2 separate regions of the Homo sapiens genome follow, and region 2 is linked to region 1. The links come from fine-mapping of genetic effects on gene expression. Tissue or cell type: substantia nigra. Region 1 holds a variant in brackets; the other region holds the start of a gene. All regions are shown on one strand. Distances are between the middles of the regions.

Region 1 (8,100 bases):
CATCTTCCTTCCTTCTCTTTCTTTCTCCCTTTCTGCTTCCTTCCTTCTTTTCCGTCCTTCCTTCTCTTTCTTTTTCTCTTTCTCCTTCCTTCCTTCCTTCCTCCCTGCCTCCCTCCCTCCCTCTTTTTCTCTCTCTTTCTCTCTTTCTTTCTTCCTTGTTTTGCCATGTTGCCCAGGCTGCTCTTGAACTTCTGGGCTCAAGGGATCCTCCCAGCTCAGCCTCCCAAGTAGCTAAGACTATAGGCACGTACAACCATGCCTAGCTAATGTTTTGTATTTTTAGTAGAAATGGGGTTTTCCCATGTTGCCCAGGCTGGTCTTGAGCTCCTGGACTCCTGGACTCAAGTACTCTTCCCACCTCTGCCTCCAAAAGTGCTAGGGTTACAGGTGAGAGCCACTGCGCCTGGCCCTCTCTCTCTCATCTCAGATTTTTCTCTCCACCTTAGCCACTCCCAGATGTTCTCCTCACTCCTGTCTCCTTCCGTTGAAAAACCACCCTCAAGCTACTGGTGGATGAAGGGTGTGGACCACCCCACCCCTGGATCAAACCCCCAAGCCCCACCTCTATCACCCACAGCTATATTTCCTTGAGCAAGTTGCTTAATCTCTCCAAGCCTCAGTTTCCTCAACTACAAAACATATACAAATAGAAAGTGATACATGACTGCTTCATTGTAGTAACCATTGCACCATCTGCATGTATCCCACAATGTCATGTAGCAAACAACAAAAATTATTAAAAAGAAAAAAAGACGATCTGATCTCACAGATCTGTTAAGAGGATTAAATGGGATTATTCATGTAAAGCTCTCCATTTGTGATGTCATAGTGTAAATATCAAATTAACGGTGGAACGAGCTGTTGTAATCAATTCTTATCTAAATACGACCAATAATAACAATGCTTAATGTGATTATTACTAACCATAGTTGTATTTCCTCTTATATTAACCTCTTAGTCTCTCCTTACCATATTATAGATCATCAATAAATATTTATTGAATGAACGATTGAATGAATGGTTATTGAATTTTTGTAAGGAGGAAAAGATCACGGACTTCTTATAAAAAATATAAAAGTCAGTCCAGATGCGATGGCTCATGCCTGTAATCCAGCACTTTGGGAGGCCGAGGTGGGCTGATCACTTAAGGTCAGGAGTTCGAGACCAGCCTGGCCAACATGGTGAAACCCTATCTCTACCAAAAAAAAAATTAGCCAGGTGTGGTGGTGTGCACCTGTAATCCCAGCTACTCGGGAGGCTGGGGCAGGAGAATCACTTGAACCCAGGAGGCAGAGGTTGCAGTGAGCCGAGATCATGCCACTGCACTCCAGCCTGGGCAACAGAGTGAAACTCCGTCTCAAAAAAAAAGAAAAAGAAAAGTATAAAAGCCAGGTCTGTGGCCAGGCACAATGGCTCAACACCTGTAATCCCAAGACTTTCAGAGGCCAAGGCGGGCAGATAACTTGAGGTGAGGAGTTTGAGACCAGCCTGGCCAACACGGTGAAACCCTATCTCTACTAAAAATACAAAAAATTAGGCCAGGCTTGGTGGCTCGTGCCTGTAATCCCAGCACTTTTTGGGGCCGAGGCAGGTAGATCACGAGGTCACGAGCTCAAGAGATGGAGACAATCCTGGCCAACATGGTGAAACCCTGTCTCTCCTAAAAATACAAAAATTAGCTGGGTGTGGTGGCGCGCCTGTAGTCCCAGCTACGTGGGAGGCTGAGGCAGGAGAATGGCTTGAACCCAGGAGGCGGAGGTTGCAGTGAGCCGAGATCACACCACTTGCACTCCAGCCTGGTGACAGAACAAGACTTCGTCTCAAAAAAAAAAGAAAAATTAGCCAGGCATGGTGGTATGTGCTTGTAATCCCAGCTACTAGGGAGGCTGAGGCAAGAGAGTCGTTTGAACCCAGGATGCAGAGGTTGTATGAGCTGAGATCACACCACTGCACTCCAGCCTGGAGGACAGAGTGAGACTCTGTCTCAAAAAGAAAAAAGAAACAAACACAACTGGGTCAGGCAAGGTGGCTCACACCTATAATCCCAGCACTTTGGGAGGCTGAGATGGGAGGATTGCTTGAGGCCAGGAGTTTGAGACCCACCTGGGCAACATGGTGAGACCCCAATTTCTACTAAAAGTATAAAAATTAGTGCCGGGCACAGTGGCTCATGCTTATAATCCCAGCACTTTGGGAGGCCAAGGTGGGCAGGTCACCTGAGGTCATGAATTCGAGACCAGCCTGACCAAAATGATGAAACCCTGATTCTACTATAAATACAAAAATTAGCCGGGCGTGGTGGCACTCGCCTGTAATCCCAGCTACTTGGGAGACTGAGACAGGAGAATCACTTGAACCCGGGAGGTGGAGGTTGCAGTGAGCCGAGATCGCGCCATTGCACTCCAGGCTGGGCAACAAGAGCGAAACTCCATCTCAAAAAAAAAAAAAAAATTAGCCAGGTGGCAGGGCACAGTGGCTCACGCCTGTAATCCCAGCACTTTGGGAGGCCAAGGCAGGCAGATCACAAGATCAGGTGTTTGGGACCAGCCTGGCCAACACGGTGAAATCCCATCTCTACTAAAAATACAAAAATTAGTTGGACGTGTTGGCGGGCGCCTGTAATCCCAGCTACTCGGGAGGCTGAGGCAGGAGAATTGCTTGAACCCGGGAGGTGGAGTTTGCAGTGAGCCGAGATCACGCCACTGCCCTCCAGCCTGGGTGACAGAGTGAGATTCCATCTCAAAAAAAAAAAAAATTAGCTGGGCATGGTGGTGCGTGCCCATAGTCTCAGCTCCTTGGGAGGTTAAGGCACGAGAATCGCTGGAACCCAGGAGGAGGAGGTTGCAGTGAGCCAAGATCGTGCCACTACACTCCAGCCTGGCTAAGAGAGAGACTCTGTCTCAAAAATAAAAACAAAAGAGTTATTGGCCTGGCGTGGTGGCTCACGCCTGAAATCCCAACACTTTGAGAGGCCAAAGCAGGTGGATCGGATCATCTGAGGTCAGGAGTCAGAGACCAGCCTGGCCAACATGGCAAAACCCCATCTCTACTAAAAAAATGCAAAAAATAGCCAGGCGTGGTGGTGCGTGCCTGTAATCCCAGCTACTTGGGAAGCTGAGGCAGGAGAATTCCTTGAACCCGGGAGGTGGAGGTTGCAGGGAGCTGAGATCGTGCCACTGCACTCCAGCTTGGGTGAAAGAGCTAGACTCTGTCTCAAAAAAAAAAGAAAAAGGTTCTTGTAAGGACTCTGTGAGATGGACCACAGGCATGGGTCTCGGCACAATCTGTTTGTTTGTTTGTTTGTTTGTTTGTTTGTTTGTTACGGAGTCTCGCTTTACCCCCCAGGCTGGAGTGCAGTGGTACGATCTCGGCTCTCTGCCACCTCTGCCTCCCGGGTTCAAGTGTTTCTCCTGCCTCAGCCTCCCAAGTAGCTGGGATTACAGACACCCACCACCACGCCCGGCTAATTTTTGTTTTTTTAGTAGAGACAGGGTTTTGCCATGTTTCCCGGGCTGGTCTCCAACTCCTGACCTCAAGTGATCCGCCCACCTCGGCCTCCCAAAGGGCTAGGATTACAGAAGTAAGCCAGTGCACCTGGCCAGCACAATCGTTCTTGCTCCCTAGATGTGAACTGCTGTTTTCACCAGCAGGAGCTAAGGGGCAGGCTGTCTCAGATTAGATGCTTTTTAGAGCACTCTGTAGTTCCTTAAATGGAGCTGCAAATCCACAGGTTGCTGCTCAATGTCTGACTAGCTTCTACTTTATTTCTGACTTTATTTCTCATCTGTCTCCACCACACCCCTCCCTTCCACATACCCTGCATTCCAGCAAAACTGACCAATGCATCACATGCCAGACACACCCTGTGATGTCTACCCCAGGACCCTTGCACAGGCTTCTGCCTCAAGAGAGCTCATGATCCAGTGGACAGGCGTGGGCATTGGAATCTCACAAGCCCAGATCACCTCCCAGTTTCACCTCTTCAATGCTATTGACCTTTGGGGACTGACAAAACCTCTCTGAACTTCAGTTTGCCCAGATATAGCATGGACTGAAAAAATGTGTACCTTCTAGGTACAAGTCATGCCTCACTCAGCAACGGGGATATATCCTGAGAAATGCATCACTAGGCAATTTTGTCATTGTGCAAATACCATAGAGTGTACTTATACAAACCTACATGGTATAGCAACTACACACCCAGGCTGTAGGGTATGACCTCTAGATTTTACATATATATATATATATATATATATATATAT[AT/A]ATATATATATATATATATAAATATATATATTTTTTTTTTCCAGATGGAGTTTTGCTCTTTCGCCCAGGCTGCAGTGAAGTGGCACAATCTCAGCTCACTGCAACTGCTGCCCCCAGGTTCAAGTGATTCTCCTGCCTCAGTCTCCCCAGTAGCTGGGATTACAGGCACCTGGCACCTCACCCGGCTAATTTTGTACTTTTAGTAGAGATGGCGTTTCACCACGTTGGCCAGGCTGGTCTCGAACTCCTGATCTCAGGTGATCCACCCGCCTCAGCCTCCCAAATTGCTAGGATTATAGGTGTGAGCCACTGCGCCCAGCCTTAAAATTTATATTTTAACTTAAAATATATTTACAACTAGAGATGGGTCTCACTATGTTGCCCAGGCTAGTCTTGAAGTCCTGGGCTCAAGTGATCCTCTCACCTTGGCCTCCCAAAGTCCTGGGATTATGGATATGAGCCACTGCACCAGGCCAATGATAAGCGTTTGTGTATCTACATGTATTTAAACATAGAGAAAGGACAGTAAAAATACAGTATTACAATCTCTTGGGACCACTGTCATATATGCAGTCTGTCATTGACTGAAATGTTGTTATACAGCACATAATTGTACTGAATGAGGATTAAAGCTAATGGGACATTTAGCCAGGTGCAGTGGCTCACGCCTGTAATCCCAGCACTTGGGAGGCCGAGGTGAGCAGATCACCTGAGGTCAGGAGTTCGAGGCCAGCCTGGACAACATGTTGAAACCCCTGTCTCTACTAAAAATACAAAAATTAGCCGGGCGTTGTGGCAGGCGCCAACTACTCGGGAGGCTGAGGCAGGAGAATCAGTTGAACTCAGGAAGCAGAGGTTGCAGTGAGCAGAGATAGCACCACTGTAATCCAGCCTGGGCAATAGAGTGAGATGCTGTCTCAGAAATAAATAAATAAATAAATAAGTCGGGCGAGGTGGCTTACGCCTGTAATCACAGCACCTTGGGAGGCCAAGGTGGGTGGATCACGAGGTTAGGAGTTCAAGACCCGTCTGGCCAAGATGGTGAAACCCCATCTGTACTAAAAATACAAAAATTAGCCGGACATGGTGGCAGGTGCCTGTAATCCCAGCTACCCAGGAGGCTGAGGCAGAGAATTACTTGAACCCAGTAGGTGGAGGTTGCAGTGAGCCGAGATTGTGCCACTGCACTCCAGCTTTGGCGACAAAGTGAGACTCTGTCTCAAAAAAAAATATATATATATATTTATATATATATATACACACACACATATATACTTACAATACATAATAATATTAATAACATGATATAAATATTAACAACTTAGTATAATGATAGTAAGGATTTACCATGTCAGGCATCTTTCCAAAAACTCTTAATATATTAAATCATAGAATTCTCACAACAACTTTTTTTTTTTTCAAACGGGGTCTCACTCTGTCACCCAGGCTGGAGTACAGTGGTGCGATCTTGGTTCACTGCAACCACTAACTCCTGAGTTCAAGCGATTCTCCTACCTCAGCCCCCTGAGTAGCTGGGACTACAGGAGTGCACTACCATGCCCAGCTAGTTTTTGTGTTTTAAGTAGAGACAGGGTTTCACCATGTTGGCCAGGCTGGTCTCAAACTCCTGATCTCAAGTGATCTGCCCGCCTCGACCTCCCAACGTGCTGAGATTACAGGCACCTGGCACCGTGCCCAGCTCGTTTTTGCATTTTTAGTAGCGATGGGGTTTCACCATATTGGCCAGGCTGGTCTCGAACTCCTGACCTCAAGTGATCTACCTGCCTTGGCCTCCCAAAGTGCTGGGATTACAGGCATTATCTACTGCACCAGGCCCTCACAACAACATTTTGATAGTACTATTATTAAGCTCATTTCACAGATGAGGAACCTGAGAGAGGTAAGGAGAAGTACAATAATCTGCCTAAGGTCGTCGTGGAGCTACTAATTGGCTAAGCAGCTCCTGGAAGTCTCGCTAGAGAGTGTCACTGTTTAATGGACCGTTGGACATTTCCTAAGCCTTGGGTGTGTTTTACATCATTCACTAGCCATGCACAGCTAGTGAGCTCTTGCAATGCAGCTACTGGGGCTACCACAGTTGTAGCCATAATGCTATGTACTATGGGTGAGGAACTTAATTTTTTTTTTTTAATTTGTATTAGCCAAGCATGGTGATGTGCACCTGTAGTTCCAGCTACTCGGGAGGCTGAGATGGGAAGATCGCTTGAGCCTAGGAGGTGGAGGCTGCAGTGAGCTGTATTTGTGCCATTGCACTCCAGCCCGGGTGACACAATGAGATCCCATCTCAAAACAAAAACCAGGTCATAGGTAGATAAAGAGACAAAAGGTTGCCTTCTTTTGAGTTTCTGATGAGCCTCTCCAAAGGAGCCAATCAGATATGAATGTATCTAAGTGAGCACAGGAGGGACTCTGAATAGAATGAGAGGCAGGTTGGCCCTGAGCAGTTCCCAGCTTGACTTTTCGCTCTAGCTTAATGATTTTGAGAGGTGAAGCCCGCTGGGCTTCTGGGTCAGGTGGGGACTTGGAGAACTTTTCTATTTAGCTAAAGGATTGTAAACGCACCAATCAGCATTCTGTGTCTAGCTAAAGGTTTGTAAATGCACCAATCAGGACTCTGTAAAAACACACCAATCAGCGCTCTGTGTCTAGCTAAAGGTTTGTAAACGCACCAATCAGCCCTCTGTAAAAACATACCTATCCGCGCTCTGTAAAAACGGACCAATCAGCCCTCTGTAAAATGGACCAATCAGCGATCTGTAAAATGGACCAATCAGCAGGAAGTGGTTGGGGCCAAATAAGGTAATAAAAGCTGGCCATCTGAACCAGCAGTGCCAACCTGCTCATGTCCCCTTCCACATTGTGGAAGTTTTGTTCTTTTGTTCTTCATAATAAATCTTCCTGCTGCTCACTCTTTGAGCCCACACTACTTTTATGAGCTGTTAACACTCACTGTGAAGGTCTACAGCTTCACTCCTGAAGTCAGCCAGACCAGGAACCCACTGGAAGGAAGAAACTCCGGACACATCTGAACATCTGAAGGAACGAACTCGGGACACACCATCTTTAAGAACTGTAACACTCACTGCAACGGTCTGCGGTTTCATTCTTGAAGTCAGCAAGACCAAGAACCCACCGGAAGGAACCAATTCCGGACACAATCTGGGGACCCCGAAATTTACTTTCCCTTCACAGTCCCCTCCCTCTTCCTTCTTTCTCCTCCTCACTTCCTTTGTCTCTCTCCCCTTTCTCCTCACTCTTCCCTCATCTGATTCTCTCTCCATCTGTCTCCTTTTTTGTTGTTGTGGTGGTGGTTGTTGAGTTGGAGTCTCACTCTGTTGCCCAGTCTGGAGGCTAATGGCATGACCTTGGCTCACTGCAACGGCTGCCTCCCGAGTTCAAGCAATTCTTCTGCCTCAGCTTCTCAAGTAGCTGCGATTATAGGCACGCACCTGGATAATTTTTGTTTTGTTCTTTTTTTTGATGGAGATGGGGTTTCACTGTTTTCCAAGCTGGTATCGAACTCCTGGGTGCAAGTGATCCTCCCGCCTCCGCCTCCCAAAGTGCTGGGATTACAGGTGTGAGCCACTGCCCCCAGTTCCTTCTCTCTCTTCTGTCTGCCGCTTCTCATCCCTTCCACCCAACCAGGGCGGGAGAGGGAGGGGGATGAAACCAGGACGGGGAGGTGGGAGAGGGATGAAACCAGGGCGGGGAGGTGGGAGAGGGATGAAACCAGGGCGGGGAAGTGGGAGAGGGATTACAAACTCCCTCTATTTACTCTCAAGCTTCTCTGTTTCCACCTCCACTAACCCTGGAACC
Region 2 (8,092 bases), 730 kb before region 1:
TGTGGAGGGTACAGAGGACCCTTTCTGAGGCTCCCAAGGCCCGGGACATGTCCCCATGCCCCCCACCCCACGGCTGAGCTTGGCAGCCAGCCTCACTTGACTTTGTCCACTCTGAGTGGCTTTTTCCCCTAAAGCCAGGCTCTGGACGCCCTGCGTTTCCTGTTATCTCAGGAAGTCTCTGGAGAACCCTGCTAGGATCAAGGCCCATTATTCAAGAACACCTTAGCCTTGGAGCCTGTCAAGATCTCTGCATTTCCTGCCACCATGTGGCCAGGCAACTCCTCTCTGGAGCCCAGAGAGGGGTGAACAGAGCTCGGTCTTGGCTTGAACTAAACCCTGGGCTGGATTTACCTGGAAGCCTGAGGCCTTAAAAGAAATGCTCAAAACAAGGATGGGCAGGGTGGCTCATGCCTGTAATCCCAGCACTTTGGGAGGCCGAGGTGGGTGGATCACTTGAGGTCAGGTGTTCGAAACCAGCCTGGCCAACACTGCAAACCCCATCTCTACTAAAATACAAAAATTAGCCAAGCATGGTGGTGGGAGGCAGAGGTTGCAGTGAGCTGAGATCACGCCACTACACTCCAGCCTGGGCGACAGAGCGAGACTCCATCTCAAAAAACAAAAAAAGCTCAAAACAAAAGACGGGCTTTCCAGAGAGAGGGAGGAGAGAAGACAGCAAAAACCGTAAATTGATCTGTTTCCACTTAGCCATGTTTCTAAGTCACTTTTTTGTCTGGGAACTGTTTCCCGGAATTTAATTTTTTTCTGAGGCAGTGATCATATGCACTGCAGCCTGGATGATATATGCAATCATATGATCGCTTGAGGTGTGATCATAGCTCACTGCAGCCTCAACCTCCTGGGCTCAAGCAATGCTCCCGCCTCAGCCTCTCAAGTAGCTGGAACTACAGGCGCACACTACCACATCTGGCTAAAAACAATTTTTCTATTGTTTTTGTGGAGTCGGGGGTCTTGCTATGTTGCCCAGGTTGATGTCGAATTCCTGGCCTTAAGTTATCCTCTCACCTTGGCCTCCCAAAGTGCTGGGATTACAGGCGTGAGCCACCACTCCTGGCCTTTTTCTTAAAACAAGTGTTAGTCACTGTATTTTTTAAAAATAAGAAACATAAAGTAAAAAATGTTTAATATTAAAAGCAATATATTATGTGAAAGACTTTGCTTAAGGAGGCTGGATGTGGTGGCTCATACCTTGGGAGGCCAAGGTGGAAGGATTGCTTGAGGCCAGGAGTGTTTTTTTTGTTTGTTTTTTTTTGAGATGGAGTCTCGCTCTGTCGCCCAGGCTAGAGTGCTGTGGTGCGATCTCGGCTCACTGCAACCTCCGCCTCCCAGGTTCAAGCGATTTTCCTGCATCAGCCTCCCAGGTAGCTGGGAATACAGGCGTGTGCCACCATGCTGGCTAATTTTTGTATTTTTAGTAGAGATGGGTTTTCACTATGTTGGCCAGGCTGGTCTCAAACTTCTGACCTTGTGATCCGCCTGCCTCGGCCTCCCAAAGTGCTGGGATTACAGGCATGAGCCACCATGCCCAGTCAGAGGCCAGGAGTTTAAGACCAGCTTGGGCAACATGGTAAGACCTTGTCTCTATACAAAAATTTAAAAATTAGCCAGGCACGGTAACATGTGCCTGTAATCCCAGCTACTTGGTACGCTGGACCAGGAGGATCACTTAGGCCTGGAAGTTCGAGGCTGCAGTGAGCTATGATTGTGCCACTGCACTCCAGCCTGGGTCACAGAAACCCAGTCTTACAAAAAAAAAAAAAAAAAAAAAAAAAAAAGGCCAGGCGCGGTGGCTCACACCTGTAATCCCAGCACTTTGGGAGGCCGAGGCGGGCAGATCACGAGGTCAAGAGATCAGACCATCCTGGCAAACATGGTGAAACCCCGTCACTACTAAAAATACAAAAATTAGCTGGGTGTGGTGGTGCACGCCTGTAGCCCCAGCTACTCGGGAGGCTGAGGCAGGAGAATCACTTGAACCCGGGAGGCGGAGATTGCAGTGATCTCAGATCCGCCACTGCACTCCAGCTTGGCGACAGAGTGAGACTCTGTCTCAAAAAAGAAAAAAAAAAAAAGACCAATAAAACATCCAGATGAATCACTAGAGGGTGCCGTCATCCTAAAAAAGTCAAAACTTTCACAAAGCCATTTCCTCAACTGGCCCACAACTACCCTGATAGAAAGCCAACTAGGGGGGTCGGGGGTTGGGGGGGAGAGAGCATCAGGAAGAATAGCTAATGGATGCTGGGCTTAATACCTAAGTGATAGGTTGATCTTTGATCTTTGCAGCAAACTACCATGGCACGTTTACCTTTGTAACAAAACTGCAAATGTACCCCAGAACTTAACGTTAAAGTTGAAAACAAGCCGGGCGCAGTGGCTCACACCTGTAATCCCAGCACTTTGGGAGGCCGAGGCAGGCGGATTATGAAGTCAGGAGTTCGAGACCAGACTGGCCAACATGGTGAAACCCCGTTTCTACTAAAAATACAAAAAATTAGTCAGGCGTGGTGGCACATGCCTGTAATCCCAGCTACTTGGGAGGCTGAGGCAGGAGAATCGCTTGAACCCGGGAGATGGAGATTGCAGTGAGCTGAGATTGTGCCATTGCACTCCAGCCTGGGCAATAAGAGCAAAACTCCGTCTCAAAAAAAAAAAAAAAAAAAAGTTGAAAACAAAGTTTGATACTTCTAATATTTGGAATTAGTCACAACATATAGGCATTTACATAAATTTCATTATTTTAATGCTATTTTTCTTCCTTTCATTATAATCCTCAATGACTGCCTTACCTCTGCCTACCCTTTGACTTCATAGATTATACCATTATCCCTTTCCCTCAATGGGTTCCATCCATACTGGCCTCCTTCCACTCAGGCTCTGTCCAGCCTGACACTCTTAGCCCTTCCTGTTCCCTCTGCTCAGAATGTTTTTTCTTTTTTATTTTTTTGAGACAGAGTGTTGTTCTGTCACCCAGGCTGGAGTGCAGTGGTGCGATCTCAGCTCACTGCAATATCCACCTCCTGTGTTCAAGCGATTCTCCTGCCTCAACCTCCCGAGTAGCTGGGACTACCCGCGCGCGCCACCACGCCCGGCTAATTTTTGTATTTCTAGTAGAGAGGGGGTTTTACTGTGTTTCACTGTGTTGGCCAGGCTGGTCTCAAACTCCTGACCTCGTGATCCGCCTGCCTCAGCCTCCCCAAGTGCTGGGATCACAAGCGTGAGCCACCGCGCCCGGTCAGAATGTTTTTTCAATAATTATTCTTTGAATGGGTCCTTCCCATCATTCAGGGGACTCAACTGTCAATTTCCAAAGAAAGATCTTTCCCAATCATCTGACTTTACGTAGCCACCCTCCAGCTTCCACTTATTTTGTTTTGTCTTCAAAGCATTCCAGAACAATACTACCTGCTGTGTTTGTTTCCCTACTATGCTTCTCCCTAGAATGTGGCGTCCATGAAAGAATGTGGATAAGAACTTTCCTGGTTCACAAAGTTAAACCCAAGGCTGAGGTCATACATGACGGGGGCTTGTAAATATCAACTAATATTTTAATATAAATGAGTCTGAAATCAGGACACTTCTGGGTTCAAGTCCCCGCTGCCACTTTTTAGCTTCTGAGTGACTTGAGGCAAATGATTTCGCCTCTCTGGACCTCTTTTTTCATCTGTAGCTTGGGGATAACACTGACTAACATGGCCACGCTGAGCACTGCAAATCTAGCCTGATTGCCAGTCAGAATGCACGCCCGGCCTCGCTGTTTCAGGAGGGCTGTCCTCCGGAGTTCAGCAAGGTTAAAGGCAAACCTCTGCCTCCACAGCCTGGCAGGGGACTGGTGGCAGGATGTCAGCCCTCCGTTTCAGGGGTCTAAAGGAACACAGATTTCGTTTTTGGTGGAGAAAGGACAGAGCCAGAGGCTGGGCAGCGAGCGGGGCCTGCTCACCGCTTGGAGATCTCCTGGTAGCGTAGCTGCAGCTTCCCCTGCAGGTCATGCTGTGGGAAGAGGAGAGGAGAGGTCGGCCTGCAAGGCACCCCAGGAGAGAGGAAAGGAGAGGGCAAGGGACCAGGGATGGTCCGGGGATGCGCATTTTAAGGGAAGGCAGGGGATGAACACTCGGGGAAACGGATGTGGGTCCTGCAGGTGAAGAGCAAAGCCAGAGTCCGGGCCCACAGATCCAAGGCTAAGAAGGTCGGGGACTGGGGAAATCCCAGGCCTGAGTGGTTCCCAGGCCAGGAGAGGGTCCCGGGCTGAAGGGGTGACTAGCTGGGGGTTCCCAGGGAGATTCGGGGAGAGCGAAGGGTCCCGGCTTAGGAGGGAGGTGAGGAGCAGGAGCGGGTCCCGGACACACGGAGCCCGAAGCCCCCCATGGTGCAGCCCTGTCCGCCCCGCGCACCCCGGACGCCCAGTTCCGCAGCCGCTGGATGAGACGGGTGGCGGACGCCATCTTCCGTCCGCGATACTGAAGGGCGCAGCCGGTGACGTCTCCACCGCTGGGGCTGCTGGGAAAGACGCGGCGTGGTATCGCGAGACGGGAGTGGGCGGTGCTAGAACGTCCTATAAAGGCTCTCCCCGAAGCACGTGACTCCTCTCCGCCAGACCGCCGCCGCGCCGCCATCATGGACACCAGCCGTGTGCAGCCTATCAAGCTGGCCAGGGTGAGGTGGGGGCCCGAATTTGGGGGCAGGGGGAGGGATTAGAGGAGCCAAACGGGCCGGGTCTGAACCCAGCTTCTTTCCTCCAGGTCACCAAGGTCCTGGGCAGGACCGGTTCTCAGGGACAGTGCACGCAGGTAATCGGGTGGGGGCATTTGGCCGACTGCCGGCGACCTAAACCCTGATGTGACCTCTACCCTGCCCTAACCCCTGCCAGCCGGAATCCGGGAGCCGATTCTCATTTCATCACGGGGTTCTGATGGTTCCCTTTAACGATCTGTATTCTGGCCCCGACACGTTCTCTGAATTCATATCTGCTTCCCACTCCGCGGTGCCTTTCCGCGGCCCGCCCTTACTTCTTCCTCCACTCCGGTGGGGACCCGTAGGTGCGCGTGGAATTCATGGACGACACGAGCCGATCCATCATCCGCAATGTAAAAGGCCCCGTGCGCGAGGGCGACGTGCTCACCCTTTTGGAGTCAGAGCGAGAAGCCCGGAGGTTGCGCTGAGCTTGGCTGCTCGCTGGTGGGTGCAAAGAGGACACCCCTTTGATAGACCTTTGGTTGGTGGTAGGGAGGCTTCGTTAAGCCCAGGGTGAGAGGGTTTGGGAGGCAGAGTCTACATACAGAGACTGACAAGAGGGAGGCGGGAGTTTGCCAATTGCTGCGGGGCCTGTCAACATCTCATGTTTGGGTCTGTTTACAGGGTCTTGGATGTCGGGTTCGACCACTTGGCCGATGGGAATGGTCTGTCACAGTCTGCTCCTTTTTTTTGTCCGCCACACGTAACTGAGATGCTCCTTTAAATAAAGCGTTTGTGTTTCAAGTTAACTCAGGTTCTTGTCTGGGTTATACGACTAGGGTTTCTCCAGGTTTCTTGAGTGGCTCCCAGGCGGTCACCGATCCTCCGCACTCTGGAAATCCTGGCCGTGCGGTCTTGCCAAACGAAGCTTTTCCTTTTTGAGGCGGGGGGTCGTGTTTGTCGATTGCACCCTCTACCCCAAACAAAACACAAGCGTAGTAGGAATGTTTTATTAGCAAAGAAGTTTCAGAGAGTGGGTGGATCAGGGCTCTATCACTTGGTCCCCACCTCACCTTGGTGGGGCCAGAGTGAGCCCCTTCCTGCCACAGTCACCCCAACTGAAATTGCCTTTCTCTTCGGCCAGTGTTAGCCTCTGAGCAGGGGACCCTGGACCCTTCTGTGCGCCAAAGGCTGAGGTGACTGACGAGGAGATCTCCCCACAGCTAGGTGTAGTGAGCCAGACGAGGCAGCTTACTGAACCTGGGGGTTCTCTCCATTGTCACCGCATTCTCCTTCACCAGGTGTGGCTGTCTGGGAGCCAGGGGGTGACTCGCTCTGGAGAGAGGGGAAAAGAGGGGGGCCTGCTGCAATCTCCTTGAGGCAGGAAACGTGGGATTCAGCCCCAGCCTCACTTAGTGGAGGTTCTTTTACCATGGACCCAGGCTGCCTGGTTTGTATCCAACCTCTGCCCCTTCTGACCTGGAAGAGGCGCTTGACCTTCCTCCCACATCCCTTCCAGTGGGGTGAGTACAGGTGTTCCTCAGTTTACAATGGGTTACATTCCGGTGAGTACATCATAGGTTGAAAGTATTGCAAGTTGAAATGTGTTTAATACACCTAATCTCCCAAACATCACAGCTTAGCATGGTCCATCTTAAGCTTGTTCAGAACGCCTTAGCCTGTAGTTGGGGAAACTCGTCTAACACGAAGCCTGTTTTAATAAAGTATTGAATGTCTTATGTAATTTATTGAATACTCTGCTGAAGTGTGGTTTTTACTAAGCACACATTGCTTTTATGCTATCATGAAGTCAAAAAATTGTAAGTTGTGCCAGGCGCGATGGCTCACAGCTGTTGTAATCCCAGCTACTTGGGAGGCTGAGGCAGGAGAATTTCTTGAACCTGGGAGGTGGAGGTTGCAGTGAACTGAGATTGTGCCGCTGCACTCCAGCCTGGGTGACAGAACGAGACTCTTGTCTTCAAATGAAAAAAAAAAATTAGCTGGGCATGGTAGCACGTGCCTGTAGTCCCAACTACTTGAGAGGCTGAGGCAGAAGAATCGCTTGAACCCCAGAGGTGGAGGTTGCAGTGAGCTGCAGTCGCCCCACTGCACTCTAGCCTCGGTGACAGAGGAAGACTCCATCTCAAAAATAAATAAAAAATGGTAAGTGGAGCCATGGTAAATTGGGGTCAACCTGTACAGGATGAGTGGGCTGATTAGATAACTTGGATTATGAAAGTGCTAAAACATCCTGGCACTTGGCCATCAGAGTATAGTGGTGTTGGGGGTTAATGTGTTCTGCAAACTCACCCAGTCTCCAGTTCTGAAGCTCTGGACCCCCTTCCCCACCCTGCCTGATGCCAAAGGGCTCCTTTTTCCTTTGATAAGAGCCTCCCTGGCAGTAGGTAACAGGAGCCCAGGGGCATGCATGAAAGGTCTTAGCTAGGTCTCTGTGACCTTAGGTTACTTCCCCCCTTGAGGACTCAGTCTCATGACCTGGGGTAGTGTCAACCTCACTGGGGTTTTGCTGCTTTCACATCAAATCCCAGCCCCTGCCAGGCGCTCTGGTTTCACACCTGTAATCCCAGCACTTGAGGATGCTGAGGCAGAAGGATCCCTTGAGCTCAGGAGTTTGTGGCTGCAGTGAGCTCTGATCACACCACTACACCCCAACCCGGGTTACAGAGTGAGACCCTGTCTCCCAAAAAAGAAAAGCAGCCACATAGGAGAATCCAGACACTGGTTCTGCACCCCTGGTGCCACCTTTGGGGAGCAGAAAGGGAGGCTCAGGGCATATTTACTATCCTCTGCAAACTGAATTTGCAGCTGGGAAAGTTTGTTTCTTCCAGAGCTGTGCTCACCTGGGTGTCGGGCTGGCCCGAGCTCAGGTGGGCATGTAGCAGAGCGGCCACCTCATCCTGCTCAGCCTCCAGGGCGATGGCCAGGGCACTGGTGCCCTCCTGTGGAACGTTAGGGACAGTCAGATCCCTGAGCCAAGCCATGGGCACCCCCCAAGATGCCAGCCCCATTGTGGGGTCTTACATTGTCCAGGATGGCAGGGTCACAGCCTGGCTGGGTGAGCAGCAGCCGCACGGTGTCCAGGCGCCCATACTCACTGGCACACATCAGCGCTGTGGCCCCATCCGCATCCTGCGCATTCACATCAGCCCCACACGCCAGTAGGGTTGCCACCATGTCCTGTCGGCCATGGCTGATGGCCAGCATGAGGGCTGTCTGCCCCGTCTGGGGAGTGGGGAGGAAGAGGGAACAGGCTGGGGTAGGCTCAGGGAAGGGAGGTCACAGGTTGACTCCCAAAGTGGAAGTGACTCCTGGCTGAGAGCCACAGTGGGGGCGCCCACGCACCTGACTGGCCTTGGCATTGACATCACCCATGCAGAAG

Evidence for each region. PIP is the estimated chance that this variant, and not a neighbour inherited with it, causes the effect.
Region 2: RPS28 starts here. The variant in region 1 is fine-mapped to the expression of RPS28 in substantia nigra (Braineac2, PIP 0.95).

Annotation. Positions count from the first base shown.
Region 1 is chr19:9,046,831-9,054,930 of GRCh38, forward strand. The region is part of intron 1 of MUC16 (mucin 16, cell surface associated); the gene reads right to left. Among named protein-coding and RNA genes, the nearest start is that of MUC16, 15 kb to the right of the region's middle. RefSeq lists enhancers at 3,133-3,632, 7,735-8,100. The variant AT/A (reference allele first, on the strand shown) is at 4,263.
Region 2 is chr19:8,316,896-8,324,987 of GRCh38, forward strand. It overlaps RPS28 (ribosomal protein S28), which reads left to right and starts at 4,601. Exons shown (of 4, transcript NM_001031.5): 1 at 4,601-4,674; 2 at 4,761-4,808; 3 at 5,058-5,196; 4 at 5,377-6,445. The coding sequence starts at 4,636. The coding sequence ends at 5,180. NDUFA7 (NADH:ubiquinone oxidoreductase subunit A7) reads right to left here and starts at 4,480. Exons shown (of 4, transcript NM_005001.5): 1 at 4,413-4,480; 2 at 3,962-4,011. The coding sequence starts at 4,463. It overlaps KANK3 (KN motif and ankyrin repeat domains 3), which reads right to left. Exons shown (of 11, transcript NM_198471.3): 8 at 8,056-8,092; 9 at 7,735-7,935; 10 at 7,554-7,652; 11 at 5,689-6,027. The coding sequence ends at 5,944. RefSeq lists enhancers at 2,600-3,567, 3,568-4,535, 4,390-4,629, 4,536-5,503, 5,504-6,469.